Linked DNA regions of Homo sapiens: all the other regions are linked to region 1. The links come from fine-mapping of genetic effects on gene expression. A gene starts in region 1. Each other region holds a variant in brackets. All regions are shown on one strand. Distances are from middle to middle. Region 1 holds the start of P2RX4 (purinergic receptor P2X 4). Region 2 overlaps CAMKK2 (calcium/calmodulin dependent protein kinase kinase 2). Region 3 overlaps P2RX7 (purinergic receptor P2X 7).

The links. PIP is the estimated chance that this variant, and not a neighbour inherited with it, causes the effect. A credible set is the group of variants that fine-mapping cannot tell apart.
Region 2: its variant is the best candidate, but not a certain one, in a credible set for the expression of P2RX4 in fibroblasts (GTEx, PIP 0.63).
Region 3: its variant is the best candidate, but not a certain one, in a credible set for the expression of P2RX4 in whole blood (INTERVAL, PIP 0.76).

What each region holds. Positions count from the first base shown.
Region 1 is chr12:121,203,929-121,214,594 of GRCh38, forward strand. It overlaps P2RX4 (purinergic receptor P2X 4), which reads left to right and starts at 6,201. Exons shown (of 12, transcript NM_002560.3): 1 at 6,201-6,370. The coding sequence starts at 6,237. It overlaps LOC105370032 (a long non-coding RNA gene), which reads right to left and starts at 6,144. Exons shown (of 4, transcript XR_001749352.3): 1 at 5,921-6,144. RefSeq lists a silencer at 5,907-6,646 and an enhancer at 6,977-7,026.
Region 2 is chr12:121,247,214-121,257,879 of GRCh38, forward strand. It overlaps CAMKK2 (calcium/calmodulin dependent protein kinase kinase 2), which reads right to left. Exons shown (of 17, transcript NM_001270485.2): 8 at 8,570-8,591; 9 at 8,337-8,425; 10 at 6,060-6,259; 11 at 5,448-5,501; 12 at 2,748-2,821; 13 at 2,574-2,661; 14 at 1,393-1,521. Among named protein-coding and RNA genes, the nearest start is that of P2RX4, 42 kb to the left of the region's middle. RefSeq lists enhancers at 1,728-1,807, 8,380-8,880. The variant TA/T (reference allele first, on the strand shown) is at 4,896.
Region 3 is chr12:121,141,461-121,152,126 of GRCh38, forward strand. The region is part of intron 1 of P2RX7 (purinergic receptor P2X 7); the gene reads left to right. The region is part of intron 2 of LOC105370032 (a long non-coding RNA gene); the gene reads right to left. Among named protein-coding and RNA genes, the nearest start is that of P2RX7, 14 kb to the left of the region's middle. RefSeq lists an enhancer at 2,387-2,536. The variant A/G (reference allele first, on the strand shown) is at 4,897.

The DNA of each region.
Region 1 (10,666 bases):
AGTTCAAGACCAGCCTGGGCAACCTGGTGAAACCCCATCTCTACCAAAAATACAAAAAATTAGCTGGGCATGGTGGCGTGTGCATGTAGTCTTAGCTACTTGGGAGGCTGAGGTGGGAGGATTGCTCGAACCCAGGAGGCGGAGGTTGCACTGAGCCGAGATCATGCCACTGCATTCCAGTCCAGGTGACACAGGGAGACCCTGTCTCAAAAAGGAAAAAAAAAAGGTAAGCTTGGTGTGAGGGCCTGAGATGCTCCCCTGTGAAGAAGGAATATGACGTCTGGCCCCATGGATTCGTGGTATATACTTTGCTTTTCTTGAGACCTTGGTTGTTTACTCCCTGTTTACTGGAATTATTACTGAGACATAACTCACATACCATAAAATTTACTCTTTTTAAATGTACAATTCAGCGGCTTTTAGTATATTCACAGGTTCCGCAACTATCACCACTTTCTTTTCCAGCACATTTTCATCACCCTAAATGGAAACCTTGTACTCACCAGCAGCCACTTTCCATCCTTTCTTTCCCCCAGCCCCTGGCAACCACTAATCTACTATCAGTTTTGTTTTGTTTTGTTTTGTTTTGAGACGGAGTTTTGCCCTTGTCGCCCAGGCTGGAGTCCAATGGCGCGATCTCAGCTCACCGCAACCTCCGCCTCCCAGGTTCAAGCGATTTTCCTGCCTCAGCCTCCTGAGTAGCTGGGATTACAGGCGTGCACCACCATGCCCAGCTAATTTTGTATTTTTAGTAGAGATGGGGTTTCTCTATGTTGGTCAGGCTGGTCTCAAACTCCTGACCTCAGGTGATATGCACGCCTCAGCCTCCCAAAGTGCTGGGATTACAGGCGTGAGCCACCACACCCGGCCTCTACTTTCAGTTTCTATGGATTTGCCTATTCCAGACATTTCCTATACACAGAATCATACGATAAGTGCCCTGTGGCATCTGGCTCCTCTCACTCAGCGTGGTGTTTTCAAGGGTCATCCGTGGTGTGGCGCGTGTCAGTGCTTCCTTCCTGTGGCTGAATCATGTTCCATTGTATGGATGGACCACATTGTGTTTATGTGTTCATTAGTTGATGGACATTTAGATTGTTTCCACTTTTTGGCCATTATGAATGCTGCTATGAATACTCATGTACAAGTTTTTGCATGAACATTTTTCTTTTTCAGAGGAGGGGTGGAAGTTTATTTGAAATGCCTTAGGATGGGAAAGGAAGCTGTGCTTGGAAGAGGCCCAAGTGGGCATGGGAAGGTTAAAGAGACAAGGTCAGATGCCAAACATAGCTTTTCTTTTCTTTTTTTTTTTTCTTGATACGGAGTCTCGCTCTGTCACCCAGGCTGGAGTGCAATGGTGCGATCTCGGCTCACTGCAACCTCCCAGGTTCAAGTGATTCTCTTGCCTCAGCCTCCTGAGTAGCTGATTACAGGGATTACAGGCATGCACCACCATGCCTGGCTAATTTTTGTATTTTGAGTAGAGATGGGGTTTCTCCATGTTGCCCAGCCTGGTTTCGAACTCCTGGCCTCAAGTGATCCACCTGCCTCGGCCTCCCAAAGTGCTGGGATGACAGGCGTGAACCACGGAGCCCCGCCCAGAACATATCTTTTTAATTCTCTGGGGAAATCCTAGAAAAGGAATATCTTGGTCCTACGGTAATTTCTATGTTTAACATTTTGAGGAACTGCTGTTTTCCAAAGCAGCTGGCCCATTTTACATTCCCACGAGTAAAAAGCAGCTGGACCATTTTACATTCCCATGAGTAATGTGTGAGGGTTCCAGTTTCTCCACATCCTTGCCAGCTTTTTGATTGTCCATCTTTTTAATTATAACCATGCTAGTGGGGAGGAAATGGTATCTCACTGTGGCTTTGATTTGTATTTCCCTAACGATAATGATATCGAGCATCTTCTTGTGTTTATTGATCTCATGTGTATATCTTCTTTGGAGAAATGTCTATTCAGATATGTTTGCCCATTTTTAAATAGGGTTGTCATGTTATTGGTGAGTTTTAAGAGTTCTTACGATATCTGAAATACTAGATCCTTAACAGATATAGGATATGTGAATATTTTATCATTCTGTGGGTTTTTCCCTTTCTTGATGGTAACTTTGAAGCACGAACTTTTCAGTTTTGACAAAGTAGTCCAATTTATCTATTTTTTTCTTTTGTTGCCTTGCTTTAGGCAACAAAATCTAAATCTAAAAAACCACTGTCTAATCCGAGGTCACAAAGATTTGCCCCTATGTTTTCATCAGAGAGATTTATAATTTTAGCTCTTATATGTATGTCTTTGATCCATTTTTAATTTTCTCTCTTTCCTTATTATTTTTATTATATTATTTTTTTTAAGACAGAGTCTCACTGTGTCACCCAGGCTGGAGGGCAGTGGCACAATATCAGCTCACTGCAGCCTCCGCCTGCTGGGCTCAAGCAATTCTCCTACCTCAACCTCCCAAGTAGCTGGGATTACAGGCATGCACTACCACACCCGGCTAACTTTTGTATTTTTAGTAGAGATGGGGCTTCACCATGTTGGTCAGGCTGGTCTCAAACTCCCGACCTCAAGTGATCCACCTACCTCAACCTCTCAAAGTGCTGGGATTACAGGTGTGAGCCACACCTGGCCAATTTATTTTTTTAAAAATTTTATGTAGCTGGGACTACAACTACAGGTGCGTGCTACCATGCCCAGCTAATTTTTGTACTTTTTGTAGAGATGGGGTTTCACCATGTTGCCCAGGCTGGTCTGGAACTCCTGAGCTCAAGTGAGCCACCCACCTCGGCCCCCCAAAGTGCTGGGATTACAGGTGTGAGCCACCGCATCCCGCCTTCTTATTTATTTTTGAGACAGGGTCTCACTCTGTCACCCAGGCTGGAGTGCAGTGGCACAATTGCAGCTCACTACAACCTTGACCTCCTAAACTCAAGTGATCCTCCTGCCTCAGCCTCCCAAGTAGCTGGGACCACAGGCATGCACCAGCATGGCTGGCTAATTTTTAAAGTATTTATAGAGATGGGGGTCTCCCTATGTTGTCCAGGCTGGTCTCAAACTCCTGGGCTCTAGCAATCCTCCCAACTTAGTCTCTCAAAGTGCTGGGATTACAGGAATGGGCCACCATGTCTGGTCAATAAAGTTATTTTTTAAAAAGAGATAATCCAAGAGCAACAGTGTAAACAAAATAACTTTTCCAAATCATTTTTTAGGATCAGCTTCTTTGGTCAGGCCTAATGATGTTACCAACTAGTAATTTATAAAAACTTGCATTTCTACATTTTTCTTAACTGACCCCATTCCAAAACACAAGCAAACCATCTAAATTCAAGATTTGTGAGGTTGGGACTAACTCATTACTATAGGGTAAGTATGAATGAAGGCTGGAAATGTGTTTTGATTGCTGCCATTATTTTTTATTTTTATTTTTTCTGAGATGGAGTTTCACTCTTGTCGCCCAGGCTGGAGTGCAATGGCGTGATCAGCTCATGGCAACCTCCACCTCCCCGGTTCAAGCAATTCTCCTGCCTCAGCCTCCTGAGTAGCTGAGATTACAGGCATGCGCCACCACGCCCAGCTAATTTTTGTATTTTTAGTAGAGACGGGGTTTCTCCATTGTTGGTCAGGCTGGTCTCGAACTCCCAATGTCAGGTGATCCACCCACCTTGGCCTGCCAAAGTGCTGGGATTAAAGGTGTAAGCCACGTGCCTGGTGTTTTTTGGGGTTTGTTTGTTTGTTTTGAGATGGAGTCTGTCACCCAGGCTGGAGTGCAGTGGCACAATTTCAGCTCACTGCAACCTCCGCCTCCCAGGTTCAAGCAATTCTTCCTGCCTCAGCCTCCCGAGTAGCTGGGATTACAGGCACCTGCCATAAGGCCCAGCTAAGTTTTTTATATTTTCAGTAGAGATGAGGTTTCACCATGTTGGCCAGGCTGGTCTCCAGCTCCTGACCTCACATGATCATCCGCCTGCCTCGGCCTCCCAAAGTGCTGCAGTTATAGGTGTGAGCCACCGTGCCCAGCCATGTTTTGATTCTTAAGGAAATGATTTTTAAGTCCCCTTCCAATGAGGATTTAGCAATGGAGTTTTCTTCTTCTACAGATAATTTGAGGCTTCCCAATTGCACCAAACTCCATTTGGGCAGATACCTCACCTGTCCACTCCATAGCCCTAGCATCAAGAAAAGTGCCAAGCACACAACAGGCACTCAGTAAATTTCTGTCAAATGAATGAATAAAATACCACCACCTTTTCCTGAGACCATTTTGGACCAAGGCTGGCATGGGCATCTCTGTTCCTCCCTCTAACTTAAGAATTCCATCTCTTAGAGGCAGATGCTGCCTGTTTTCTGCAAATTTTATTATTCACCTTTCTATATTTGGAAAAACAAGTTGGTGTGGCTTACTTAGGAATCTCATATCCAGGAAATGAGCTAAAAATGTTGTATCAAAGATTATGCATAGGATCCACAAACTAAGAAGCAAGCAGATGAGAGCGGTTAGAGACATCGTGGTATATTTTCCGGAAGAAATGGTCCATGGATTAAAAATTGTCATTATGATGAGTCTGCAGTAACACAGAAACCACGTAGTGCGAATCAGAAAATGAAAAGCACAGCCATTGACTATGATTACAAACCAAAACTTTATACCAATTACCTGTTGGAATTTATGCTGCATGAAGGCAGGATATTTTGCTTGTCCTGTTCACTGGACAGTACTTGGCATAAAGGATGTGCTTATGAATATTTTCTGGGAAACTAAATATAACATTCACCTGTGAAAACACATCTGGGCCAGGCGCAGTGGCTCACGCCTGTAATCCCAACACTTTGGGAGCCCGAGGCGGGTGGATCATGGGAGGTCAGGAGCTGGAGATCAGCCTGGCCAACATGGTGAAAACCTGTCTCTAATAAAAATACAAAAATTAGCTGGGCGTGGTGGCGGGCACTTGTAATCCCAGCTACTCAAGAGGCTGAGGCAGGAGAATTGCTTGAACCTGGGAGGCGGAGGTTACAGTGAGCCGAGATCGCGCCACTGCACTCCAGACTGGACAAGAGTGAAACTCCGTCTCAAAAAAAAAAAGAAAAAGAAAAAGAAAAAACGTATCTGAAGGGAATGAACAAATACACATGCGGAAAATTGTATTCATGGGGTAGAACGGTGGCTGTTTCCCCCCCTTTCACTATTTTCTCTCCTAAAGTTGTGATAGCATTTTCTCAGTGGAAAGGATGACCACAGAATTATCTCCCCTGGGCTGCAACTAAGGAAGTATTTGGAGTGAGAATGCGACCAGGCTTCAAATCCAGGAGGGGTATTTTACAGGGCGTGTGGCTCTCACCCAGGGCTCACAGGACACCTGATATTTAGGCTGTTCCCCAAGAGGCTAAGGACAGCGCGGCCCCAGCTCCCCCAACCACAGCTGCCCAAGTTTAGGAGCCCGCACTCGTGAGCGATGGCTACTCCGCACAGCCCCGGGGTCCTCTACGGAAATCCCTGGCACCTATCAGTACCCCTAAGGGAGGTCGCTCGTTACCCCTCACTTGAACTCTGTCCCAAATGGGAGGTCACTCTCTCTTCGCGGACCCCATCTTCCCCGAAAGGGTCTCTTGTTCTCTCTGGCCCTCCTGAGAAGGTCATTACTCCCCAACTCGCCTTTTTTGTTGTTTTTTGGTTTCTGGTTTATTGAGGCAGGGTCTCGCTTCATCTCCCAGACTGGAGTGCAGTGGCGCGATCACAGCTCACACGGCAGCCTCTACCTCCTGGGCTCAAGCGATCCTCTCACCTCAGCCTCCCTGGGACTACAGGCGAGCGCCACTACGCCCGCTTTTTTTTTTTTTTTTTTTTTTTTTTTGTATTTTTGATAGAGACGAGGTCTCGCTATGTTGTCCAGGCTGGTCTCTAACTCAAGATTCCTCTCACCTCGGCCTCCGCAAGTGCTGGGATGACAGGTGTGAGCCACCGCCCCCGGCCCCTCGCCCGCCTTTTGAAGGAGCCTTTCGTCCTCAAGGGCGAGGCCACTCCCCCCCCGCGAGTTCCATGCCCCCTAGAGGGTCATCGTTCCCGACGGGGAGGTGGCGCCCTCCCCCGGGCCCCGGGCCCCGACCGCCCGTGCTGCCTCCTTCCGGGCCCTCCTCCGCGATGACGGCGCCGCCAGCAGGCCAGGCGGACTGGGCGGGGCTCCGAGCGGGGACTGGGACCCAGACCGACTAGGGGACTGGGAGCGGGCGGCGCGGCCATGGCGGGCTGCTGCGCCGCGCTGGCGGCCTTCCTGTTCGAGTACGACACGCCGCGCATCGTGCTCATCCGCAGCCGCAAAGTGGGGCTCATGAACCGCGCCGTGCAACTGCTCATCCTGGCCTACGTCATCGGGTGAGCGTGGGGCCGCGCGGGGGGCGCGGCGGGTGCTGCCCTCGCGTCCGCGCCGTGCGGCGGCTCATCCTGGCCTCGGTCACCTGGGCGAGTCCGGGAGCGGCGAGCCGAGGCGGTGACACCTTCCCTGGGCCCCAGCCGCCGCGCCGGGGCCCCGGGGGCGGGAGGCTGCTTGCTGCTGTTTTAAAACCACAGCCTGGGCCAGGCGCGGTGGCGCAAGCCTGTAATCCGAGCACTTTGGGAGCCCGAGGCGGGACCATCGCCTGAGCCCAGGAGTTCGAAACCAATTTGGGCAACATCGTGGGACCCCGTCTCTGCAAAAAATTAAAAATCATCCGGGCCTGGTGGCGCGCGCCTGGGGTCCCAGCTACTCAGGAGGCTGAGGTGGGAGGATCGCTTGAGCCCAAGAGGCTGAGGCTGCAGTGAGCTATGATCACACCACTTAACTCGAGCCTGGGAGACAGTCCGAGACCCGTCTGTTTACAAAATAAATAAAGGCAAAGCCTGGCTAGGCTGTTACCCTCTCCTGCCTGACCCCCCATAGTGCCCCTTGGCTGTAGGGGCTTCGCCCTGAACGTCTCAATCTTCGCTCTCCACTTCCCATCCTGCTGATTTGCTGACAAAACCAAAGCTTGGAATTTCCGCTTGGTTCCTTCTGGGTGGGTGGCTTTTGGTCATTTCTTTTGATCACTATGCGGTGTCACTATGTGGTAGTAGCGAGGTCAGACTGTAGCGAGTGTTTAAAGTTTGCTTCCTTTGTTTTCTGGGCTTGTGGGGCTTTTTGTGGTACCTGCCCTAGCCTAGTCAGTCATTCCCCATGCTGCCCCCTTAGGCTAGAGATGCCCTACCGCCCTCAGGCCTCGCTGAATGTGCCATTGTACTTGAAGGCACCTGTTACTTTTTTAATTTTTTTATTTTTTTGAGACGGAATTTCTCTCTTGTCGCCCGGGCTGGAGTGCAATGGCACGATCTCGGCTCACTGCAACCTCTGCCTCCCGGGTTCAAGCAATTCTCCTGTCTCAGTCTCCTGAGTGGCTGGGATTACAAGTGCCCGCCACCACGCCCGGCCAATTTTTGTATTTTTTAGTAGAGACGGGGTTTCAGGCTGGTCCTGAACTGACCTCAGGTGATCCGCCCACCTCAGCCTCCCAAAATGCTGGGATTACAGGCGTGAGCCCCCACGCGGGGCTGGCACCTGTTACAATTGAATACAACGCGAGAGAGAAGATGATAATTACCTTGCCACCTGGGGCCACTTTAAAGGCTTACCTGGGGTGTTCTGGTGTCTACAGCTGCTGGGCTGACACGTATTGCCTAGTGCAGTGGTCTCCAAACTGCACATTGGAACCATCTGGAAATCTTTGGCTCCCATCCCCAGACCCTTTTTTATTTTTTTGATGGAGTCTCCCTCTGTCGCCCAGGCTGGAGTGCAGTGGTGCAATCTTGGCTCGCTGCAACCTCCACCTCCCTGGTTCAAGCGATTCTCCTGCCTCAGCCTCCTGAGTAGCTGGGATTACAGGCACCCACCACCATGCCCGGCTAATTTTTGTATTTTTAGTAGGGACAGGGTTTCGCCATGTTGGCCAGGCTGGTCTCGAACTCCTGGCCTCAGGTGATCCACCCGCCGCAGCCTCCCAGAGTGCTGGGATTACAGGCGTGAGCCACCGCGCCCAGACGCATCCCCAGACCTTCTGATTTAATTGCTGCAGAGTATGATCGGCTGCCCAGGTGATTCTCATGTTCAGCAACGTTTCGGAACCAATGAACTGTGTTTCCCAAGTTTACCTGATCATGGAAGACTCATCTGAGGAATTGTTTAAAAGTAACAGATCCCCCCGTCTTTGGGGTGAGGTTTGGAATCTTAACACTGCCCAAGGGAAGCCCAAGCAGGTTTGGCTTCCAATATCTGTCAGCAGCAGCAGTAGATACAGACAGTATTCAAGAGGATGGCTTTCCAGGTGCAGACTCAACATCAGAACCACCTGGCCCACACCCAGATTTGGACTCATTGGCTCACACCTGTAGTCCCAGTGCTTTGGGAAGCCAAGGTGGGAGGATTGCTTGAGGCCAGGAGCTCAAGACCAGCCTGGACACAAGACCAGCCTGGACAACATAGCGAGACCCCATCTCTAAGAGAAAAATAAAGTTTAAAATGGTAAATTGTACTGATGGAGCAGTGCAAAAAAAAGAATTTTTTTTTTTTTTTTTTCTGAACACGGTGGCTCATGCCTATAATCTCAGCACTTTGGGAGGCCGAGGCGGGTGGATCACCTGAGGTCAGGAGTTCGAGACCAGCCTGGCCAACATGGTAAAACCCCGTCTCTACTAAAAGTACAAAAAATTAGCCAGGCCTAGTGGCTAATGCCTGTAATCCCGGCTACATGGGAGGCTGAGGCAGGAGAATCGTTTGAATCCAGGAGGCGGAGGTTGCAGTGAGCCCAGATTGCGCCACTGCACTCCAGCCTGGGCAACAAGAGCAAAACTCCATCTCAAATATATATATATATATATATATATATATATATATTTTTTTTTTTTTTTTGGAGACTCACTGCTAGCCAGTTAACTGAACTCACATCCCTGGTTGGACCTGAAGCATTTGGGGGCAGGAGCTCCCCTGCAGCTTTTTGCTTTTGGCGTTTGCTGCTAGTGGGAGGATCAGTGCACATCTACCTTAGGGTACCTGTAAAATTACAACTGCGGAAAATATCCATAGTGGTGTTGCACTGTATGGTAGCCACTAGTAACTTGCACCTGTTGAACACTTAACCGTTCCTACTCTACACTGAGATGTGCTATAACCTTAAAATACACACTGGATTTCAAAGACATAGTACAGAAAAAGAGGCTGGGCACAGTGGCTCATGCCTGAAATCACAGTACTTTGGGAGGCTGAGGTGGGAAGATCGCTTGAGCTCAAGAGTTTGAGACAAACCTGGGCAACATAGCGAGACCTTGCCTCTACAAAAAAATACAAAAATTAGCCTGGCATGGTGGCACACGCCTATAGGCCTACCTATTTGGGAGGTTGAGGCAGAAGGACTGCTTGAACCTGGGAGGTTGAGGCCACAGAGAGCTGTGATCACACCACCCTCCAGCCTGGGCAACAGAGCAAGACACTGTCTCAAAAAAACAAAGAGTACCACTATCACATGAAAACATTTTTTATTGATGACATGTTAAAATATTTTGGATATATTGGGTTACACAGAATATATCATTACAATTAATTTTTCCTGTCTCTTTTTTCTTTTTTTCTTTTTAAACGGCGCCTTGCTTTGTCACCCAGACTGGAGTGCAATGCACTGCAACCTCTGCCTCCCAGGCTCAAGTGATTCTACCATCTCAGCCTCTGGAATTATGGGACTACAGGTGCACACCACCATGACTGGCTAATTATTGTGTTTTTGTTTGTTTGTTTGTACAGATGAGAAATCTCATCTCTACAATCATGAGGTTTCCATGTTGCCCAGGCTGGTCTCGAACTCCTGAGCTCTAGCAATCTGTCTGCCTCGGCCTCCCAAAGTGCTGGGATTACAGGCATGAGCCACCGTGCCCAGCCCTTTCTATTTCTTTTTACTTTTTGACATGGCTACTAGAAACTTTTAAATTACAGGGTCTTGCCCTGTGGTAGCTCACGCCTGTAATCCCAATACTTTGGGAGGCTGAGGCAAGTGGATCCCTTGAGCTTAGGAATTTTGAGACCAGCCTGGGCAACGTAGTGAAACCCCATCTCTACCAAAAATACGAAAAATTAGCTTGGCATAGTGGCGCACACCTGTGGACCCAGCTACTTGGGAGGCTGAGGTGGGAGGATTGCTGTAGCCTGGGAGGCGGAGGTTGCAGTGAGCCAAGATTGTGCCACTGCACTTCAGCCTGGGCGACAGAGCGAGAGCCTGTCTCAAAAAAAAAAATATGTGGCTCGCGTTATGTTTTTATGGGACAGCGCAGCTCTGTAGGATTCCTTATGACGCATTCACTATCTCGGTCATGAGAATCTTTAAAGCAGTAAATGCTTTGCTTTTGTCCGTCTTGCTATAATCAAAACTGACTCAGGACCTGCATTAAGGCTCTTTTTTTTTTTAACCTCATCTCTTAACTTTTTGATGCAACTCATCTTAGTGAAATTGTGGTCTCCTCCTACAGCAACCCTCCCTCAAAAAAAGACCGAACACGCAATTCTCATCTATCTAACTCTGTTAACAATCATATGAGGAGGAAATAATCACATGATAATGAGTGGCATGAAACCCTGTGTCTCTAAATTAAGCAACTCACTGTACTTGATGAGTACAT
Region 2 (10,666 bases), 43 kb after region 1:
AGGGGCATGTCCTGTGGTCCCTCTACTGCACTGTACATACATTTGTTGGTTTGACCAGCATCTGCCTCTCAAGCATGGCAGAGGCCATGGGGGTTTTGTTCATCACTCCACCCAGCCCCTGCTCCCAGCACAGGCCTGAGAAACCACTCGGTGTTCAACAAGTGTTTCCCGTATAATGAATGCCTACTCCAGACCTCCAGGGCCAGACGCTTTCTCCCAAGAACCCGTCCCAGAGACCCAGGAAGGAAAGGGAGGGCAACTGATTCAGGACTGAGAACCTCCTGAGCCTGGAACACAGTAACCCACGGTGGGTGCAGAGTCCGACGCCAGCTGTCTCCTCGTCTACAGGCACAAGGGGTGGTTGAGGAAGGGTGAGTGGGTGTGGGTGGGTCTTCAACAGTGAAGGTCCTGCACAGCCCCAGGTGGGGAAAGAGTGGAGGAAGATGTGGATGGATGCCCCAGCCAGGGCTCAGCTTTGGGAGGAGGAGAGAGGAAGTGTGTGGGGAAGCAGAGAAGAGAGGTGCAAAGCTGGAGGAGCAGGAGCAGCATCTGGGCTCCTACAGGGGCAATCCTTCACAGCTGGACCTTCTGTGCCTTTCCAGCCAGTCTCAAGGGTCCCTCCCAGAGCCCAGGGGCCCGCCGGCCCACTGGGACTAGTGCTGGCCAACTGCAACCAGGCCTTTCGAGGTGGCTGTGGTGGGACAACCTGCTGGTCTCTGTCCCCAAGCCTGCTGCCTGGAACCTGGATCCCTGGGACTCTTGGTCTCTCTCTTGGAGCTAACTGCCCTCCTGGACAGGGACTTGGTCAGTGGCGATTCCCAGAGCCTCCAAGGTTAGGCCTGAGGACTCTACATTCTGGCTCCTTCTTCCTGGGTCAGGATCCAAATTCAAGGCCATAAAAGGGGACCTACTTGCTCCTAAGCAATTCTCACTCTCAGGAGATGGGCAGAACTTTCTGAGTGTGTGCGTGGAAGTCCCTGCCCCTACCCCTGGTGGCTGCCCACACAGCAGACGTGAGATATGCTACGCCATCCACCCTGGAGCCTAAAATTCCAGCTAGGCGGGAATCCTGGCTTAGAGACCTGGGCTCCGGCTCCCAACCCTTGCCCCTGCCTGGAACTTCTCCTAGTTCCTCTCCCCTGATGAGCTCTGAAAGCAGGAATTCCAGAAGGATAATCTTCCCCTTCCTATGGTAACATGGAACCTGGCTCAGAAGATGCAGGGGTCACCTGGCCTGATACATGACCAAGGCCCAGAGGCCAGCAGCTGTGGATTAGGGGTGGCCCCCGGACATCTGACTCCCGGGCACCCGCCTGTGTCCGGCCTGTCCTGGCCAGGCCCCACCTCAGGCTCCTGGGTCCCTGCTCTGGGTCAGGGGTCCATCCACCTTACCACGGTTGCCAAGCTGGGAATGTGTTTGACTGAGTTCTCGACCTCCTCTTCAGTCACTTCGACCAGCGTGCAGTTCTCATCCTCCGACGGCAACGGCTCCGCCCCATGCCTCGTGACCCAGGGGTGCAGCTTCAACGAACGACAGGAGGGGTGAGGGGCAGGTGTGGCTGGCTACCGGGGGGCCCTGCCAGCGAGCGGAGCCACAAGGGCATGCAGGACGGAGAGGCAAGGGCCTGTGGTCAGGCATGCAAAACAGCTGGCGAGCAGAGGGCAGGGGTGAGCAAAGGGGCGGAAACATGAAGACGGAGAGACAGGACGGGAGGAGCTACAAGGCTGAAATGGAAGTGGGGCGATTCTCCATCCGGCCCCGGGTCTTGGCCGAAGTGATGGGAATTTGGCATCTGCCTTGCCTGGCTGCCCAAGGAGCATCCATCACTCCTCAGCCACAATCCCTGACACCTGGGAGGCTCAGTGCACAGCAGGCAGCATTCTCCCCATCTCACAGCAGGAGAGGCTTGGAGGCATGGTGGGACCAGCTGGCAGGACAGGATCAGGAGAGGACCCAGGCAGGGGTCTGCCCCCTTGGGTCCAAGCCCCAATCCATGATTTTTTGGGCTGCCTTCTGTTAAGACCTTCAAATGCCAGTTAGCTAGCTGCCTAGGAAGTCCCAGGGCAAATCTCTAGATTTCCTAGAGGGCCAGATATATGTGTGTGGCATTAGTGGAGATGTGTAGGGGAATACACTTTCCTAAAAGTGCTTTCTGCAAGAGGGTGGGATTCAGCAGGCTGGGGAGGTCGAATTGCTCATTAATTTCCTCCCATCCTCACTGCAGTTTCTCAAAGGGACGGGCCTTTGGAAAGGACCTGAGCTCTGGGAATAGGGTGTGGAGCACGGAGGCCCCATGCCGGTCTGCAGAGGGTGGATCCCATCAGCCCACGCCAATCAGAGCAAGTGCAGGCTGGCGGGTCATAGATCCCACTCCCACAGTCACAGTGCACACAATGCCCAAATCTTCCTACCCAGCCCTCAACAGCCCCCAGCAGCTCAGAGGCCCTGGGGCATAGGAGAACAGCGGTGCCAAGGAGGGTGTGGTGCTGTGGACACAAGGGTGTGGGGTCTGGCTGAGGCATGGCTGAGCCAAACAATTCCGAGCACGGGGCACAGGCTGAGCCAAGGGTACCTTGATTTCCGGCACCACGATCCTCGACTCGGGGTTCTTGTCCAGCATACGGGTGATCAGGTCCTTCAAGTCCTCAGCTATGTCGGGCCTGGGGATGGAGAGGCGTCAGGGTGGCAGACACGGGACCGCCAAGAACTCGGACAGGAGAGATGCGGGACGGCGGGAGATACTCACTGGTCTGGAAATTCCAGGGCCTGACTCTTGATCTTACTGTGTAAACACATGATCCGCTCGTCCATGAATGGGCACTGCAAAGAGGCCAGGGACAGAGTGGCAGTCAATGGCGGCCACATCTGCCCTTCGAGGGCCACCTGTGCTGTGCCACTCCACATAGGATACAGCAGAGAAATCAACAATTGCGGCCCAGGCTAGGGGGCAAGCAGTTCCCATTCTCCCCGAGAATGGCCAAGACACAGGGGTGTGGGGCCTGGCCGACGCAGGGCAGAGCCAGGAATGGCCCTCTCGAAGGGCTAGAGCCTTTCCCAAGCACACTGCAGGCTCCCTCTGTAGCTGGGCCTCAGTTTACCTACTTACACCAAAGCAAACACTGCTCGTCACCTACTTGCCAGGTGAACAACAGGAACAACAAGAATAACACAAAAGACTTTGTGTTATTTGTGGCAGCAGCAGTGATTTTCAAGGGCTTAGCCTGGATCGCGCCACGCCCTGCCCTGAGGTTTTCATTCACTGTTCCCCGTCCCTGGAATGTTCTTCTCACCAACATCTACGTGGCTTGGTCTCTCCCACCATGCAGGTGTCTGACTAAAGCTCACCTTCTCAGGGAGGACTTCCTGAAGCCCTGTCTAAAACAGACAACCCCCAATGCCGCCACCGCCCACATCACTCCTCATCGTAGCACTTATCCCTGACGTTATCGTACAGATTTGTTTATTGTTTAACCCCTCCCACGGGAACGTTAGCTCCAAGAAGGCAGGGATTTCTGGCTGTCTTGCTCACTGCGGACTCTCCGTGCCTAGGAGCGTTCCTGCACAAAGTAAGGGCTCAATAAATATCTGCTGAATTAATGGATACTTGAATTATTTCTGTCAATCCTCTCAGAAGTCATCAGAAATAATAAGTAGTATTCTCATTTTACAGAAGAGAAAAACAGAAGTTCAGAGAAATAATGTGTCCCAGGAAGTACGAAGAGGGATTTAAGCCTAGATTCAGCTGACTCTGAAGCCTATTTTTGCACCACCTTCTGGGTGACAAATCGATGCTTTCACCCAGCTGAGGGCCTGACTCAAGAGCAGCTTGGTCATGTGTGCTGGAAAAGGAATCCTTACACGGGACACTGAAAATGTTGGAGAAGGTGGCAGAGAGGTACCTGAACCACCCGTCTAAGGAAAACGATTTCATTAAGAGCAGTGACTTGAGCTCTACCTAATCACTGCCTTCTAAGGCATTTGGAAGGAAGAGTGGAGATGGTGGTAACTTACTCTGAAATACATTAAGAAACCAGATGGACTGAGGGATGGGTAAGGAATGAACAGACAAGCACAGGAAAAGGTTAATATAGTAGAATCCAGGTGGTGGGTATGTGGGTGTTCACTGGACACTTCTTCCAGCTTTGCTACATGATTGAAAAATTTTCTAATCAAATATTGAGAGGCAATCGGTATAAACTCCTTTACTTCTTCATGGGACCAGTTTCTTAGGCTTTCCTCAATAAGAACACAAGCTCAGGAAAGGGAAAAATCTACGTTTTTATTGCTCACATAATCAAACTGAACTTCAGAGTTAAAACGAGAAGGCCAGGCGTGGTGGCTCACACCTGTAATCCCAAATCCCAGCACTCTGGGAGGCCCAGGCTGGCAGATCATTTGAGGTCAGGAGTTTGAAACCAGTCTGGCCAACATGGCAAAACACTATCTCTACAAAAATACAAAAATTAGCCGGGTGTGGTGGCTGGCATCTGTAGTCCCAGCTACTCAGGAGGCTGAGGCAGGAGAATGGCTTGAACCCGGGAGGCGGAGGTTGCAGTGAGCCGAGATCGCACCACTACACTCCAGCCTGGGTGACAGAGCAAGACTCCATCTCAAAAAAAAAAAAAAAAAAAATAGAGAGAGAAGCCCCCAGATATCAATAATAACAAAATAACAACAACAGAAAAGCCCAAACAGCACTCCCTAAATCAATAATGGTAAACAGCTTTTAACTTCCATTCCAATGCTACCCCTCTGACAAAAGCTTCTAGGAATACCCTGACGGAAAGAACATCAGAGCAGTATCAGGCTCAGGAGGAACGAGCACAGTTATTGATTAGTGATGTCTGCCTTGGGCTCAGAAATGGGAGAGGTGGCAGAACTGCTGTCCTTGCCC[TA/T]AATTTATCAACTATTTATAAACTCTAGAGCCTCTGCCAATCCTTCTGTTTTAACAGATCATTTTTTCATAGATATGATCATGACATACATACACATGTATATTTAGGAAGGCATCCTTTTTCACATTGAGATCTAGGTGTAGAAATAAAATAACTCTTCTCTTATTTTATTTTTTGAGACGGAGTCTCGCTCTTGTTGCCCAGGCTGGAATACAATGGTGCAATCTCAGCTCACTGCAAGCTCCGCCTCCTGGGTTCAGGCGATTCTCCTGCTTCAGCCTCCAGAGTAGCTGGGACTATAGGCATGCGCCATCACGCCTGGCTAATTTTTTGTATTTTTAGTAAAGACGGGGTTTCACCATGTTGGCCAAGCTGGTCTCCAACTCCTAACCTCTGCCTCAGCCTCCCAAAGTGCTGGGTTTACAGGCGTGAGCCACCATGCCCAGCCTAAAATAACTCTTAAATAAGTAAGTACTGTCTCCCCGCAAGGGTGACTATTAACCCAGGGGCCACCCAGCAGTACTGAGGGGACAGACACCCCGCCCTCTTACCTGGCCAAAGACAAAGCAGTATAGTGTCACACCCATGGCCCAAACATCCAAGGCCTGCAAGAAAAAGAGCTTAGTGTGAGGGCATAAGGGGTGGTCCAGCCTCCAATCCTCCAGTTTTCCTTTGGGGAACCACCTCTTGACTTTCAGCCCTTGGAGTTGGGGCGGGACCAATCTTGTCTCCTAGGCTCTGGGGCAGGCACAGGATCCAGGCCAGGCCAATGAGAGCACCACTACCCCCAGCCACAGTGATTGGTTCAAGCATGGGCACATGACCCATGTTGGGCCAATCAGAGCCAACCCCAGGGTTTTCACAGGCACTATTCAGAATGAGGAATGCTCTTGCCACTGAGGTTGGCAAATGATAGAAAGTAACCTGGTCCCTGGGTGCCTGACCCACCTGTGGAGGAAACCAAATAAGAAAAACAACTGAAAGATGGCGGGAGATGGTTTCTGTTTGAGTCCCTGGATCTAGCCAAGCCTGAAGCCTACCCCTCAGTATCTTGATCCAGGGGATTCACTGTTTAAGCCTGTGTGCGTTGGGTTTCTGCTGCTTACAATCCAGAAGACACTAACACAGGCAGAACTCTGTGGCTGAGGCAGGCCCAAGCTTACCTTCCCAGAGAAGATCTTGCGGGTCTCAGAGAGCGACTCGGGTGCCATGAAGGCGGGCGTGCCCACGGTGTTGGAGAGGAGCGCGTCACTGCCCTTGAATTCATTGCTCACACCAAAGTCAGCGATCTTGATGTGCCCATCTTCTCCGACCAGGAGGTTGGAAGGTTTGATGTCACGGTGGATGATCTTCTGGTAGTGTACTGGGGAGGCGTAGACAGCAGGTGGGAGATAGGGGCAGGAAAACCTCGTGAGCACCTCTATGCGGCCACATGGCCTGGAGACACAGGCATGGCACCCCTCTGATGCCTTGTCTCCCACAGCCCCAGGCCTTTTCCAACCTTCCACTCCCCAAACCCGCTGGGCACTGACATGCTCTAAAAGATGAGGGGAAAAGTGTCTTCAAGGAAGTCCCAGCCCACCATCACCCCACCCCTTCTCAACAATGACACATAAAACACTGCCAATAGCAATTCGTAATCGCCTGTTATTTATTAAGTCACAAGTGACAGTGCATGGAAAGTTTTTGCTGGGCTTGGCTCACAGCTAGTTGTGAAACTGACAGTGAAACATAGTTTCATTTACCAACAGCCAATACTCAACTGATTTACCAAACCGACAATGACCTGAGCAGGCCGATTTGAAATGTGAACCACACACAGAACTCGGGGCTTGGCTAACTCCTCCTGGCTGGATATCAGCCCATGGTACAGGACAGTTCTATGGCCTGGAAGACCCAACTGCCATTTCTGGGGTGATGATGATGATGAAGACGATTTCAGTGAAAGCAGCAGCAGAGCACCAAGTGAGGGGCCCGGCCCTGCGTTGTGTTTCACATTCACATTTTACATTTAATTAAACCTCACAACCATCCTATGTGACAGGCAGGGATAAGAGATAACGTGGTGGCCGGGCACGGTGGCTCACGCCTGTCATCCCAGCACTTTGGGAGGCAAGGCAGGGGGATCACCTGAGGTCAGGAGTTCAAGACCAGCCTGGCCAACATAGCGAAACCCCATCTCTACAAAAAATACAAAAATTAGCCGGGCATGGTGGCGTACACCTGTAGTCCCAGCTACTTGGGAGGCTGAGGCATGAGAATTGCTTGAACCCAGGAGGCAGAGGTTGCAGTGACCTGAGATCGCGCCACTGCACTCCAGCCCAGGCAACAGGGCAAGAATCTCAAAGGAAAAAAAGAGCTAAGATGTTTAACAAGCAGAAGCAGAAAGGACACCTGCCAATCAAACCACTGATGTGTACTGGCTGATCTCAGCCCTGGTGAGAGATATGTTATCCCCATTTTACAGATGAGGAAGCTAAGGTTCCAGGAGGTGAACAGGACCCTGATCCCAGGGTCACTGGGAGGAATAAGAGACAAAAAAAATAGAGCCCCAAACAGTGCCTGGTGCACATAGAAAGTGCTAAATAGTCACTATTGCTACTGCTCTTCATTTTGCCAAGTGGCAGGAAGAAGGGTTTTGGCTCGCCTGGACCATGGCCATAGGGTGGCTCTCTGCAGCTGGCCCTGATTCTGCATTTCACACAATTCTGTTTCCCACTATGATGGTTGATACTGAGTGTCAACTTGATTGGACTGAAGGATACAAAGTATTAATCCTGGATGTGTCTGTGTGGGTGTTGCCAAAGGAGATTAACATTTGAGTCAGTGGGCTGGGGAAGGCAGACCCACAATCTAATCAGCTGCCAGCGAATATAAAGCAGGCAGAAAAACGTGAAAGGTGAGACTGGCCTAGCCTCCCAGCCTATGTTTTTTTCCTATCTGGATGCTTCCTGCCCTCAAACGTCAGACTCCACGTTCTTTAGTTTTGAGAGTTAGATGGGCTCTCCTTGCTCCTCAAGCTTGCAGACAGACTATATTGTGGGACCTTGTGATCGTGTAAGTTAATACTTAATAAACTCCCCTTTATATATATAATTATATATATAATTTTATATATATATAATTTTATATATATATAATTATATATATAATTTTATATATATATAATTATATATATAATTATATATATAATTTTATATATAATTTTATATATATATAATTATATATAATTTTATATATATAATTATATATATAATTTTATATATATAATTTTATATATATATATGTATCTCCTATTAGTTCTGTCCCTCTAGAGGACCCCAATCCACCCGCCCACCTCCCTGTGCTCCAGGAAGAAAATAAGACACTTTCCACTTTGCACCCACGCTCAGAATGCTAACTACCCACTGGGTGAGAGCCCTCCCGCAGGCCCTGCTCACAGTACTCGATGCCTTTGATCAGATCCTGGAAGTAGAAACGGGCCTGGTCTTCAGAGAGTGGTTTGAGGGTGGGCACTTCCATCACGGGCCTGAAAGGTCGACACTCATGTGAAACACAAAGCAGACCCGCCAGCCCTTGCCCTCTCTCATGAGCAGAGCCCAGTGGCACCTCACTCAGCTATGCAGCTACAGAAGCTTCTTGCATCACCCCTGCTGGGAGCTGGGACACTCACCCTTGGTTGACCAGTTCGAACACTGTAGGGAAGAAAAGGGTGAAACTGTTACATGGGAAACTGAACATCCATCTCTCTCTGTCCTCCCCACCTCCCAACCACCTCCAGAAACACCAAGAAAGACAGAAACTAGTATTAGAGCTGGGGAGAGGAACAGTCCACTGAACCAAGCTGGCCAAGGTCCTGCTTTGCTAAATTTCCATCAGAAGGCAAAGAACCAGGGATTTCTGACGTCCCCAGGCCCACAGTCTGGCTTGACTTCTAGTGCTCAAATTGGCCCAGGATCCACTGGTCAAAGAAAACACGGCAGGGGGCTGGGCACGGTGGCTCACGCCAGTGTAATCCCAACACTCTGGGAGGCCGAGGTGGGCGAATCACCTGAGGTCAAGAGCTCGAGACCAGCCTGGCCAACGTGGCAAAACCCTATCTCTACTAAAAATACAAAAATCAGCCGGGCGTGGTGGCAGGTGCCTGTAATCCCAGCTACTTGGGAGGCTGAGGCACAAGAATCACTTGAACCTGGACAGCGGAGGTTGCAGTGAGCCAAGATTGCACCCCTGCACTCTAGCCTGGGCAACAGAGCAAGAATGTCCCAAAAAAAAAATTTCTTTGAGATGAAATTTACGTAACATAAAATTACCCATTTTAAAGCGTGCAATTGAGTGGCATTTAGTATATTCACAATTTTGGGCAATCATCACAACTATCTAGTTCCAGAACATTCTCATCACCTCAAAAGAAAACCTCATACCCATTAGCAGTCACTCCCTATTCTTCCCTCCCTCAATCCCCTGGCCACCACCAATCTGTTTCCTGTCTCTATAGATTTGCCTGTTCTGGACATTTCATATAAATGGAATTGTACACTATGTGGCCTTTTGTGTCTGGCTTCTTTCACTTAGCATCATTAGCACGTTTTTAAGGTTCATCCACACTGGTGCATGGATCAGTGCTTCATTCCCTTTAATGGCTGAATAATATTCCATTGTATGGATAGACCACATTTTCTTTGTCCATTCATCTGTTGAGGGGCATATGGACTGTTTCTACTCTTTGGCTGTTGGGAAGTGCTGCAATGAACGTTCGTGTACATGGATATGTTCATGTGTGGATATCTGTTTTTGGTTCTTTTGGGTATATACCTAGGAGTGGAATTTCTGGGTCACGTGGTATAGTTATTTAATTTGATTCTGCTATGACAAGCATAAATTGGAATACAAGGCTGTACTTTAGGAAGTTAAAAAAAAAAAGAGCACAGTCGATTTCAAAATCCAGTGGAGGATGACTCTGGGGTTGCTTGTTGTTCTGGAATCATACACCCACAATGAGATGAGCATGTAATAGAAACCAGAGGGGATACCCCATTTTCCATGATGGGATTATTATGCACTGCATGCCGGTATTAAAACATCTCATGTAACCTATGACTATATCCACCTACCATGTACCCACAAAAATTAAAAAAACTTTTTTTTTTTTTTTGAAATGGAGTCTTGCTCTGTTGCCCAGGCTGGAGTGCAGTGGCACGATCTTGGCTCACTGCAACCTCTGCCTCCTGGGTTCAAGCGATTCTTCTGCCTCAGCCTCCCGAGTAGCTGGGACTACAGGCACCTGCCACCACACCCGGCTAATTTTTTGTATTTTTAGTAAAGATGGGGTTTCACCGTATTGGTCAGGCTGGTCTCGAACTTCTGACATCAGGTGATCCACCCACCTCGGCCTCCCAAAGTGCTGGGGTTACAGGCAAAAAAATTTTTTAAAAATGAAACCAAAGGGTTGTTTCAAAGCTCTCCAAGGGCTGAGGTGGCCAAGGGGAACAGGGAAGCTACTCAGACAAAAAGAAGGCTTAAAGGTTCTGATCAGGAAAAGAACTGAACTCTCCCAGGCCTTCCCCATCTTCAGTTTCATCAACCAGTGTGAGTTAGGGCAGATTTGCTATTGCTTCAGGCTGTAGTTAAAAACAAAGGCAATGCTGCTAAGGTACAGCTTCTACAGACAACCCAGCGCTGGCCCCCTCAGCTCTGGCCTTTCCTGCCTTGGTTATTTAAGTCTTCACTTGCAAGCTTCATGAATTTCTGCACCATCCTCCCACCCACC
Region 3 (10,666 bases), 62 kb before region 1:
GCCGGTACAGTGGCAGAGAAGGCGAGGCTGAGGTGGGGCTGGGGAAGCCAGCAGGGGCCTGATCATGGAGCGCCTTGAGCTGCATCCCACAGGTACTGAGAAAGCATGGAGAGCTGTCCCCCAGCCCCCAGCATCTTATTAGAAAATATTGAAACATAACAGAAAACATGAAGGGTTTTATGTTCATATTTTCATTTTAGAGAGATCATTCTGCTTGAAATATAACACCTACTGAGTACTGCTGAGGACTTAGCATGTGCCGGGTTCTGTTCTTAGCATGTGACATGTATTGGCCTATTTGATTCTCCTACATAATCCTGGAAGATTGGTTGTGGGAGTGGGTGATCATGACCTGAACAGCCTAACCATGTTTAGGGAACACTCTGTGTTATGCGTTCCACCACACAATCCATGTCACAGCTGAATGTCCCAGTTTCCCTTGCAGCTAGGACACAACAGGAGACCCAAGCTTTCCAAACATATGCCCCAGGCAACACTTTGATACACAAGGAATAACACTGGATGCTGGGTGTGCACAGAATTCAAATTCAGGAATGGAGGGAAGTACTGCCCTTTGACCCATACAATAGGGGATCCCCTTCCTTGGACCCCATGGCTTAGAGGGCCCCACTCTGTCCCTCTGCAGACTGTGAGCTGCCCTATGGAATGAGGGGTGTCTGAGGCTGTATTAGTTTCTATTTGTTACACAGCAGTGGAAACTAATACAGTCCCACAGGCCTAAATCAAGGCGTCAGCAGGCTGAGTTCCTGCCTGGAGACTCTGGGGAAAATTCACTTCCAAACTCATTTTTGTTGTTGGCAAAATTCAATCCCTTGAGGCTGCAGGACTGGGCTCTGCTCCTCACTGGCTGTCAGCCTGGGGCCACTCTCAGATTCTGAAGTCCTCCCACATTCCCTGCCACATGGTCCTCTCCATCTCCAAGCCTGCTATGACACAACGCATTGTTCTCATGCTTCAAATCTCTGACTTCTCTCCCGGGACCAGAAGAAGAATACTCTCTTCTTTTAAGGGGCTCATGTGATTGGGTCAGGTCAACTCTATCATATCATGGAGTCTCACCGTCTTGCCCAGGTGGGTCTTGAACACCTGGGCTCAAGTGATCCTCCTGCGTTGGCCTCCCAAAGTGCTGGGATTACAGGCGGGAACTGCTGTGCCCAGCCAAGGCCAGCATCTTCAGACTTCTCTGCCCTGTTTTCACATGGTCTTCTCCTCTTTGTGTGTGTGTCAAATCTCCTTCTGCCTCTCTTATAAGGACGCGTGTAATAGCACTCAGGGCCCACCTGGATGACACAGGGTCATCTCGCCATCTCAAAATCGTTAACTTTGGCCAGGTGCAGTGGCTCATGCCTGTAATCTCAGCACTTTGGGAGGCTGAGACAGGTGGATCACTTGAGGTCAGGAGTTCAAGACCAGCCTGGCCAGCATGGTGAAACCCTGTCTCTACTAAAAATACAAAAGTTAGCTGGGCGCGCACCTGTAGTCCCAGCTACTCAGGAGACTGAGGCAAAAGAATCTCTAGAACCTGGGAGGCAGAGACTGCAGTGAGCCAAGATTATGCCACTGCACTTCCAGCCTGGGGGACAGAGTGAGACTTCATCTCAAAAAAAAAAAAAAGATGACTGGGCACGGTGGCTCACATCTGTAATCCCAGCATTTGGGAGGCCCAGGTGGGCAGATCACCTGGGTTCAGGAGTTCATTCGAGACCAGCCTGGCCAACATGGTGAAAGTCTCTCTCTACTAAAAAAAAAAAAAAATACAAAAATTACCCAGATGTGGTGGCAGGTGCCTGTAATCCCAGCTACTTGGCAGGCCGAGGCAGGAGAATCACTTAAACCTGGGAGGCAGAGGGTGCAGTGAGCTGAGATCACTCTGCTGCACTCCAGCCTGGACGACAGAGCGAAACTCCATCTCAGAAAAACAAATTAACCAGGCATGGTGCTGCGTGCCTGTAGTCCCAGCTACTGGGAAGGCTGAGGTGGGAGGATTGCTTGATCCTGGGAGGTTGAGGCTGCAGTGAGCTGTGTTTGTGCCACTGCACTCCAGCCTGGGCGACAGAGTGAGACCCTATCTGAAAAAAAAAAAATCGGCCAGGCGCGGTGGCTCACGTCTGTAATCCCAGAACTCTGGGAGACTGAGGTGGGTGGATCACCTGAGGTCAGGAGTTCGAGACCAGCCTGACCAACAGGGTGAAACCCCGTCTCTACTAAAAATACAAAAATTAGCTGGGCATGGTGGCAGGCACCTATATAATCCCAGCTACTCGGGAGGCTGAGGCAGGAGAATCGCTTGAACTCAGGAGGCAGAGGTTGCAGTGAGCCGAGGTCATGGCATTGCACTCCAGCCTGGTGGCAGAGTGAGACTCCGTCTCAAAAAAAAGAAAGTCTCTTTTTACAACTTTTTTGAGGTATAACTTACATATCAGAAAATCACCGGTTTTAAATATACATTTCAATGACTTTTAGTAAATTTCCCAAGTTGTGCAACCATCATCACAATCCAGTTTCAGAACATTTCATCAGCCCAGTAAGAGCCCTCACACCCATTAACAGTCACTCCCCACTCCCACTTCCTCCTGGTGGTTGCTCAACCCAGGTAACCATGAATCTATTCTCTGCCTCTGGAGATTTGTCTTTTCTGGACAATCTTTCTTCTTAAACTCAGCAGAGTGAGTTCTGTTGTTTAGAACTAGAAACCCTGCCCAATAGAATACTAATATCCTCTTGTTTTGCAAGGGAGTTAGAGTCTCGCTCTGTCGCCCAGGCTGGAGTGCAGTGGTATGATCTCGCCTCACTTCGACCTCTACCTTCCGGATTCAAGCGATTCTCCTACCTCAGCTTCCTGAGTAGCTGGGATTACAGACGTGCACCAACACACCTGGCTAATTTTTGTACTTTTAGTAGAGATGGGGTCTCACCATGTTGGCCAAGCTGGTCTTGAACTCCTGACTTCAAATGGGCCACCCGCCTTGGCCTCCCAAAGTTCTGGGATTACAGGCATGAGCCACTGCACCCAGCCCTAATATCCTCTTATTACAAAAGAAGAAACAATGACTCAGAAAGATTAAGTCACTTACCCAAGGTCATGTAGTCAGTAAGCAATAGAGCTGAGACTGAACCTCACTCCAAAGTCTATGCTCTCACTAAAGTATTGCAGTGTAGAGAGTAGAGGGGACAGGGTGAGACTGGAGGAAGGGAGGGCATTTAGGAGACTATTGGGATGTCCAGATCTGAGAGCTGTTGGCGACCTGGACTGGGGAGGTGATAGAGGCAGAGGAGAGAAGTAGATGAATTTGAGCATATTAGGAAGTGAAACAGTAGGATTTGGCAACTGAACGGGTGAGTGGACAAGAAGGAGAGGATGAGTCAAAGAGTGCACCATGCTTCTGGCTTGGGCAACTGATGGGTACTGGAATAACTTGCTGGGATAGGAAATGCAGGAGAAACAGCCAATTTGGGGTGGAAGATGAGGTCAGGACTAAAGGCATTGAGTTTGAGGTGTCTATGGAATGTACAAATGGAGATGTTGAATGGATGGTTGGATATACGAATCTGCAGCTGAGATGTAGGTTTCTATATCACCAGCATATAGACGGCAACCAGAACCCTGGAAGAAGGTGCAACCGACCAGCAAGAGAAGATGTAGATGAGAAAGCAAAAGGGCCTAGAACACGCCCCAAAGGAGTGCTAACCTTTAAGGCGTGGGAGCGCAGAAGTCCCCAAAAGATTCTGAGGAGTAGCCACGGCGATCCAGTGAAAGTCAGGCACAAGTGGACTCCTGCAAGCTAAGGGAAGGAGGCGAGGGAAGTGGGGCATGGTCACAGTCAGTGTCAACTGCTGCTGAGAGTTCCAGGAAGGTCAGGTCCATGGTGTATCTATTGGATTTAGTGACAACGACATTGTTGTTTACTTGGCAAGAGAGGCTTTAGAGAAGGGATGGGGGTGGGAGCCAGACTAGAGTGGGTAGAGGAGTGAGTGAATCAAGATGCGGAAGTGGATGTGATGACTCGCCCTTTCTTTCTTCTTTCTTTCTTTTTTTTTTTTTTGAGATGCAGTCTTCCTCTGTCGCCCAGGCTGGAGTGCGATGGTGTGATCTCCACTCACCACAACCTCTGCCTCCTGGGTTCAAGTGATTCTCCTGCCTCAGCCTTCCAAGTAGCTGGGATTACAGGCATGTGCCACCACACCCGCCTAATTTTTTGTATTTTTAGTAGAGACGGGGTTTCACCATGTTGGCCAGGCTGGTCTCAAACTCCTGACCTCTTGATCCACCTGCCTCAGCCTCCCAAAGTGCTGGGATTACAGGCGTGAGCCACCGTACCCGGCCTGGTGACTCACTCTTTCAAGGGACTCAGCTATAAAGAAGAGAGGCATGGAGTGGTGGTAGGATGGATTAAGCTGGGGAGGGGAGGCATTTTTAAGATGAGAAATGATGTTTAAATGCAGATGGAAATGGGACAGGAGAGAAACGGAAGTTGATGGGATAAATGAAAATTATCATCATCATCTTCCTCACCATCACCAGCAGCAACCACAAGGAAAGCTCGTTCTGCTCTGGGACTGCCCTGTTAGACATTTCTTCCTTATACTGAGCCACAATCTATCTCCCTGTAACTTTCGCCTTTGGTTAGAGTTCTGCCTTGTGTCCCTCTTCTACTCTTCAAATGGCTGCACGCTGCTACTATGTCTGTCCTCTTCTTCAAACTCACAGCCCCCATCCTACGGGCCCTGTGCTCCCAGCCTGGTGACCCGACCCTCTACTGTCCCAGCCAAGTTCACATGACCATCCTCTTATTTGTCAAGCCTCTCTTTTTTTTTTTTTTTTTTTTTTTTTTTTTGAGGAGTCTTACTCTGTCCCAGGCTGGAGGGCATGGCACA[A/G]TCTCAGCTCACTGCAACCTCTGCCTCCTGGTTTCAAGTGATTCTCCTGCCTCAGCCTCCTGAATGCTGGGATTACAGGCATACATCGCCATGCCTGGTTAATTTTTGTATTTTTAGTAGAGACGGGGTTTCACCATGTTGGCCAGGCTGGTCTTGAACTCCTGACCTCCAGTGATCCCCCTGCCTCAGCTTCCCAAAGTGCTGGGATTACAGCGTGAGCCACTGAGCCGGGCCAAGCCCCTCTGAAGAGGCAGTGTGCACACTCTTGCTTTGCTGATAGAAGCATGAAATGGTTCAAGTTTTTGTGATTTGGGAAAATGAACTCAGCTATAAAATGTGCACACCCAGAAGTTGTCCTATGGACTTAATGTCTTAGGGGTGAGAAGAAGCTTGTGCAGGGATTCCTGGCAACATGAATGCGGGATGGACAGACAGTGAGCACAGTGTTGAGGAGCACAGCCTGAGTGCATCTCCCTGAGATCAGGAACAGGACAAGGATGCCCGCTTTCACCGCTGCTGTTCGACATTGTACTGGAAGTTCTAGCCAGAGCAATTAGGCAAGAAAAAGCAATAAAAGGCATCCAGATTGTAAAGGATGAAGTAAAACTATCTTTAGTCACAGGTGGCACAATCCCATATAGGGAGAATCCCAAAGAATTCACAAGAAAACTGTTAGAGCAAATAAACTAATTCAGTCAAGTTGCAAGGAACAAGATCAACCACAAAAATTAATTGTGTGGGTTTTTTTTACACCAGCAATGAACATTTGAAAAGGAAATTCGAAAAAGTATTCCATTCACTGTAGCATTTAAGAAAGCTGAGGCTGTGAAGCTACATGGCTGTGTTTGGAGCTGGTGCTGCTATTTACCATGTGACCTTGGACAAGCTTCTCACTTCATTCATGACACCGTTTATTCAGCTATTAAGTGGGGGTAATAATAGTACCTTCCTTATAGAGTTGGTTTTTTGTTTTTGTTTTTGTTTTTGGTGGGGGAGAGTAAGGATTGCAAGAGTTAATATATGTTAGCAAAATGGACTTAGAAGAGTGGTTGGCACATGGTAAGGACTATATTAGGGTTACCAAAAAATGTTTATAATTGGGAAAATTGAACAAAGGTTCCAGTAAATATCCATCCCAGAGGCTGGTTGACAAATTATCACAATGTACCTTTTAGCTTGAACCATATGGAACTGCCTATATTCTATAGCTATGGCCTACAAAATGCAAAATGGGCAGTTTTTTTTGTTGTTGTTTGTTTGTTTGTTTGTTTGTCTTGAGACAGTCTCAGTCTGTCACCAGGCTGAAGTGCAGTGGCACGATCTTGGCTCACTGCAACCTCTGCCTCCCAGGTTCAAGCGATTCTCCTGCCTCAGCCTCCCAAGTAGCTGGGATTACAGGTGTGCACCACCACGCCCAGCTAATTTTTGTATTTTTAGTAGAGATGGGGTTTCCACCATGTTGGCCAGGCGGGTCTTGAACTCCTGGCCTCAATTAATCTGCCTGCCTCGGCCTCCCAGAGTTCTGGGATTACATGAGTGAGCCACCGAGCCCAGCCAAAATGGGCCGTTTCATATGTTCAATTTAAACACTAAGATACTCTTTAGCCACTGAAAATGACTGTGTATCATAGATCTATCTTTATCACAGATCTATCTTTACTGTCATAGAAAGAACTAATAACATATTATTGAACAAAAATAACAAGTTACAAAACAGCTTGCAGCCACGTTTGTAACATCAGTATATCTATTTGTGTGTCTAGGTGTGGACATAAAGAGATATCTAGAAGACACTCCCATTGCCTATGGGAATGACTTGGGCTGGGATCTTTTTTATTTATTTATTTATTTATTTATTTATTTATTTATTTATTTTGAGACAGAGTCTCACTCTGTCACCCAGGCTGGAGTGCAATGGCATGATCTTGGCTCACTGCAACCTCCGCCTCCCAGGTTCAAACGATTCTCCCACCTCAGCCTCCCAAGTAGCTGGAATTATAGGCACCCATCACCGCACCTAGCTAATTTTTGCCTTTTTAGTAGAAATGGGGTTTCGCCATGTTGCCCAGGCTGGTCTCAAACTCTTGATCTCAAATTATCCACCTGCCTCAGCCTCCCAAAGTGCTGGAATTACAGGCGTGAGTCACCGCACCCAGCTGTGATCTTAATTTATATTTTTTCTTTTTAACCCTTGATTTTTACCCTGTTTGACTGACTTTAGGAGTCTGACCCCCAAAACTGCAAAAGAATAAATTAGTGTTGTTGAAAGCCACTAAGTTTGTGGTAATTTGTTAGAGCAACAACCAGAAACTAATACAATCGGGATTAAACTTGCCCTGGGGGTGCTGGCTCTCCCCCACTTTCTTCTCAGAGCATCTCTTGGGTCCTCGCCCCTTGCTGAGCCCCCACCATGGCCGGGTGGACCAGCGATGGACCTGATCGGATTCTCCTCTTGGGATTTTAAATAAGAGATGCAGAGGCTGCACGCCAAGCTTCTCTGTGCCGCACTGCAGGCACAGTCCTGGCGCTACTGTTCTTTAGGGGTCCATGAAGATGTTTGTTGGCCTGGCTTAGGTGTGAGCTAAGAGATACAAGGGATACACTTTGGAGGCTCAGCCCTTTGATGTTACCTTTGCGCTGGAAGCCCAGGGGCTGTAAGACGGAGAGGAACTTTGCTGAAAGGGAGGTCCTCCCTGCAGAGCTTGAAGAGCAATCTAACCATGCTGGCATGGGGCCCATCCCACCTGTGATGCCAGTGTAAGTCTGTGACAGTCACTCATATTCAGAGCATGTGGATTGAGACTCTGAAGAACGACTTTATGGTGGGCACCTTCATCTCCATCTGGTGGGTCCAGAGCAAGCAGCCTCAGGGTCCCATGGGCCCAACCTCACCCTCCATCCTTATTTCCCTGCCACTCCAGGGCTCCTCCTCAGCCAGACTTGCCTGTGAGTGCCCCTTGATGGCTGTATTAGTCTGTTCTCACGCTGCTAATAAAGACATACCCAAGACCAGGTAATTTATAAAGGAAAGAGGTTTAATGGGCCCACAGTTCCACATGGCTGGGAAGGCCTCACAATCATGGCAGAGGGCGAAAGGCATGTCTTACATGGTGGCAGGCAAAAAGTGAATGACAACCAAGCAAAAGAAGAAACCTCTTATAAAACCATCAGATCCCATGAGACTTACTCACTATCACGAGAACAGTATGGGGGAAACTGCCCCCATGATTCAATTATCTCCCACCAGGTCCCTCCCACAACACATGGAAATTATGGGAGCTATAATTCAAGATGAAATTTGGATGGGGACACAGCCAAACCATATCAGTGGCCCTGGCTTCTCTCCCATTAGCTCTGTTCTACTTCCCAAAATCTTTCCAGCTTTGTTCTTTTTTAGAGACTGGAGTCTCACTGTGTTGCCCAGGCTTGTCTTGAACTCCTGGGCTCAAGGGATCCTCCTACCTCGGTCTAACAAGTAGCTGCGAATATAGGTGCACACCACCACACCCCCACAACTTACCCATCCTCCCCGGCTCAGTGAAATCCCTAGGTCCTTCACACTCCCGTTAGCTCCAGGTACCAGCGGCTTTGCCTTCTACAGAATGCATAACATTATAGCCTCTTAGAGCAAAAAGGTCATGGGGATGGGGAAGGCTGGGAGTTCTCTCTTCATTCAGGGATTAAACCTACCACCTGGAGGGGTGACATGGCTCACCTTAGTCACCAAGCAAGGTCGGGAGAGTATTTCTGGGATGGTCATTAGCACTTTCTTTCCAAAGGGAGGATACTACAAACTCACTTTCATGATCACAGTATCCCCCCCGACAGGTAAAGTGTGCAAACTCGCTTTCATTCCCTTTTTGTCTTTGACGCAGCTCTGAAGCATTTTAATTCTTAAAATTTACATGTTCATGATGACACAGAGACAGGTTTTCTGTTTAGGAGAGGGCCTGATTCCATTAAGGCTGATCGATCATATGTTGCACATTCTGGGATAAATATGAGAGATCAGAATTGAGCTTCCCAAATGGTGGGTCACATGACCCAGTGTTGTTCCAGGAGAACGTTGCAACATCCAGCATGAGAAAGCGCTGCATGCACCATGTATGTGTTGGGATGCTGGGCTGAAATGTATTAATGAGCAAGTGTTATCATATTTGTCTATGGAATTCTATTTAATAGCTATGTCTCGTATGTGCTGATTGGGTCTCAAATCTGGGTATCTTACCCCAACATCTTTCTTGAAAATCCTTCTTTTTAAATAAATGTTGGCCGTGTGCACTGGCTTATGCCTGTAATCCCAACACTTTGGGAGGCCAAGGCGGGTGGATCACCTGAGGTCAGGAGTTCAAGACCAGCCTGACCAACATGGAGAAACCCCATCTTTACTAAAAATACAAAAATTAGCTGGGCACGATGGTGGATGCCTGTAATCCCAGCTACTTGGGAGGCTGAGGCAGGAGAATCACTTGAACCTGGGAGGCGGAGGTTGCAGTAAGCTGAGATCGCGCCATTGCACTCCAGCCTTGGCAACAGAGTGAGACTCCGTCTCAAATAAGTAATAAATAAATGTTATAGAAATACTAAAGTGTATTGTGCATAATATAACACCCACGTACCACCATCCAACTTAAGAAATAAAGCATTACTAATCCAGTTTTGCTCCCTGCAAACTCATCCTTCATCCCATTCTCTTTCCTTTTGCTTTATAAACATCCTGCAGCCAGGCACAGTGGCTGCACCTGCAGCCTGAGCTACTTGGGAGGCTGAGATGGGAGGATCACTTGAGCCCAGGAGTTTGTGGCTGTCGTGTGCTGATTGCACCTGTGAAATAGCCACTGTGTTCCAGCATGGGCAACATAGCAAGACTCCATCTCTAAATGAAATCCTTTTTTTTTTTTTTCTTTTTGAGACAGAGTCTCACTCTATCACCCAGGCTGGAGTGCAGTGGCGCCATCTCGGCTCACTGCAACCTCCGTCTCCAGGGTTCCTGCCTCAGCCTCCGGAGTAGCTGGGACTACAGGCACATGCCACCACAACTGGCTAATTTTTGTATTTTTAGTAGAGACGGGGTTTGGCCAGGTTGGTTTCGAACCCAGGACCTCAGATGATCCACCTGCCTCGGCCTCCCAAAGATTACAGGCATGAGCCACCATGCCCAGCCTAAAAGAAATCCTGAATTTGACATTTTTAATTCCCTTGTTTGTTTTAATATTTCTACAGCACATATATGTCTACATATATAAAAAATATAATTTTTTATTGGGGTGAAATTCACATAACGTAAAATTAACCACTGTAAACATGAACAATTCAGTGGCATTTAGGACATTCATAGTACTGTGCAACCACCACCTCTATCTAGCTCCAGAACATTTTCATCACCCCAAAAGGACACTCCATGCCCCCCAGGAGTCACTCCCCATTTCTTCCCACTCTGTCCCCTGCAACGACCAATCTACTCTCTGTCTCTGTGGATTCACCTATTCTGGATATTTCATATAAATGGAATCATACAATATGTGGCCTTTTGTGACTGGTCTCTTTGACTTAGCTGGGTGTGGTGGCACGAGCTACCCACCTACTTGGGAGGCTGAGGCAGGAGAATCGCTTGAACTCCAGCCATAAATTATATTGTTTTCAAGGTTCATCAATATTACTCGCCCAGGCTGGAGTGCAGTAATGTGACCTTGGCCCCCTGCAACCTCCACCTCCCCGGTTCAAAGGATTCTCCTGCCTCACCCTCCCGAGTAGTTGGGATTACAGGCGC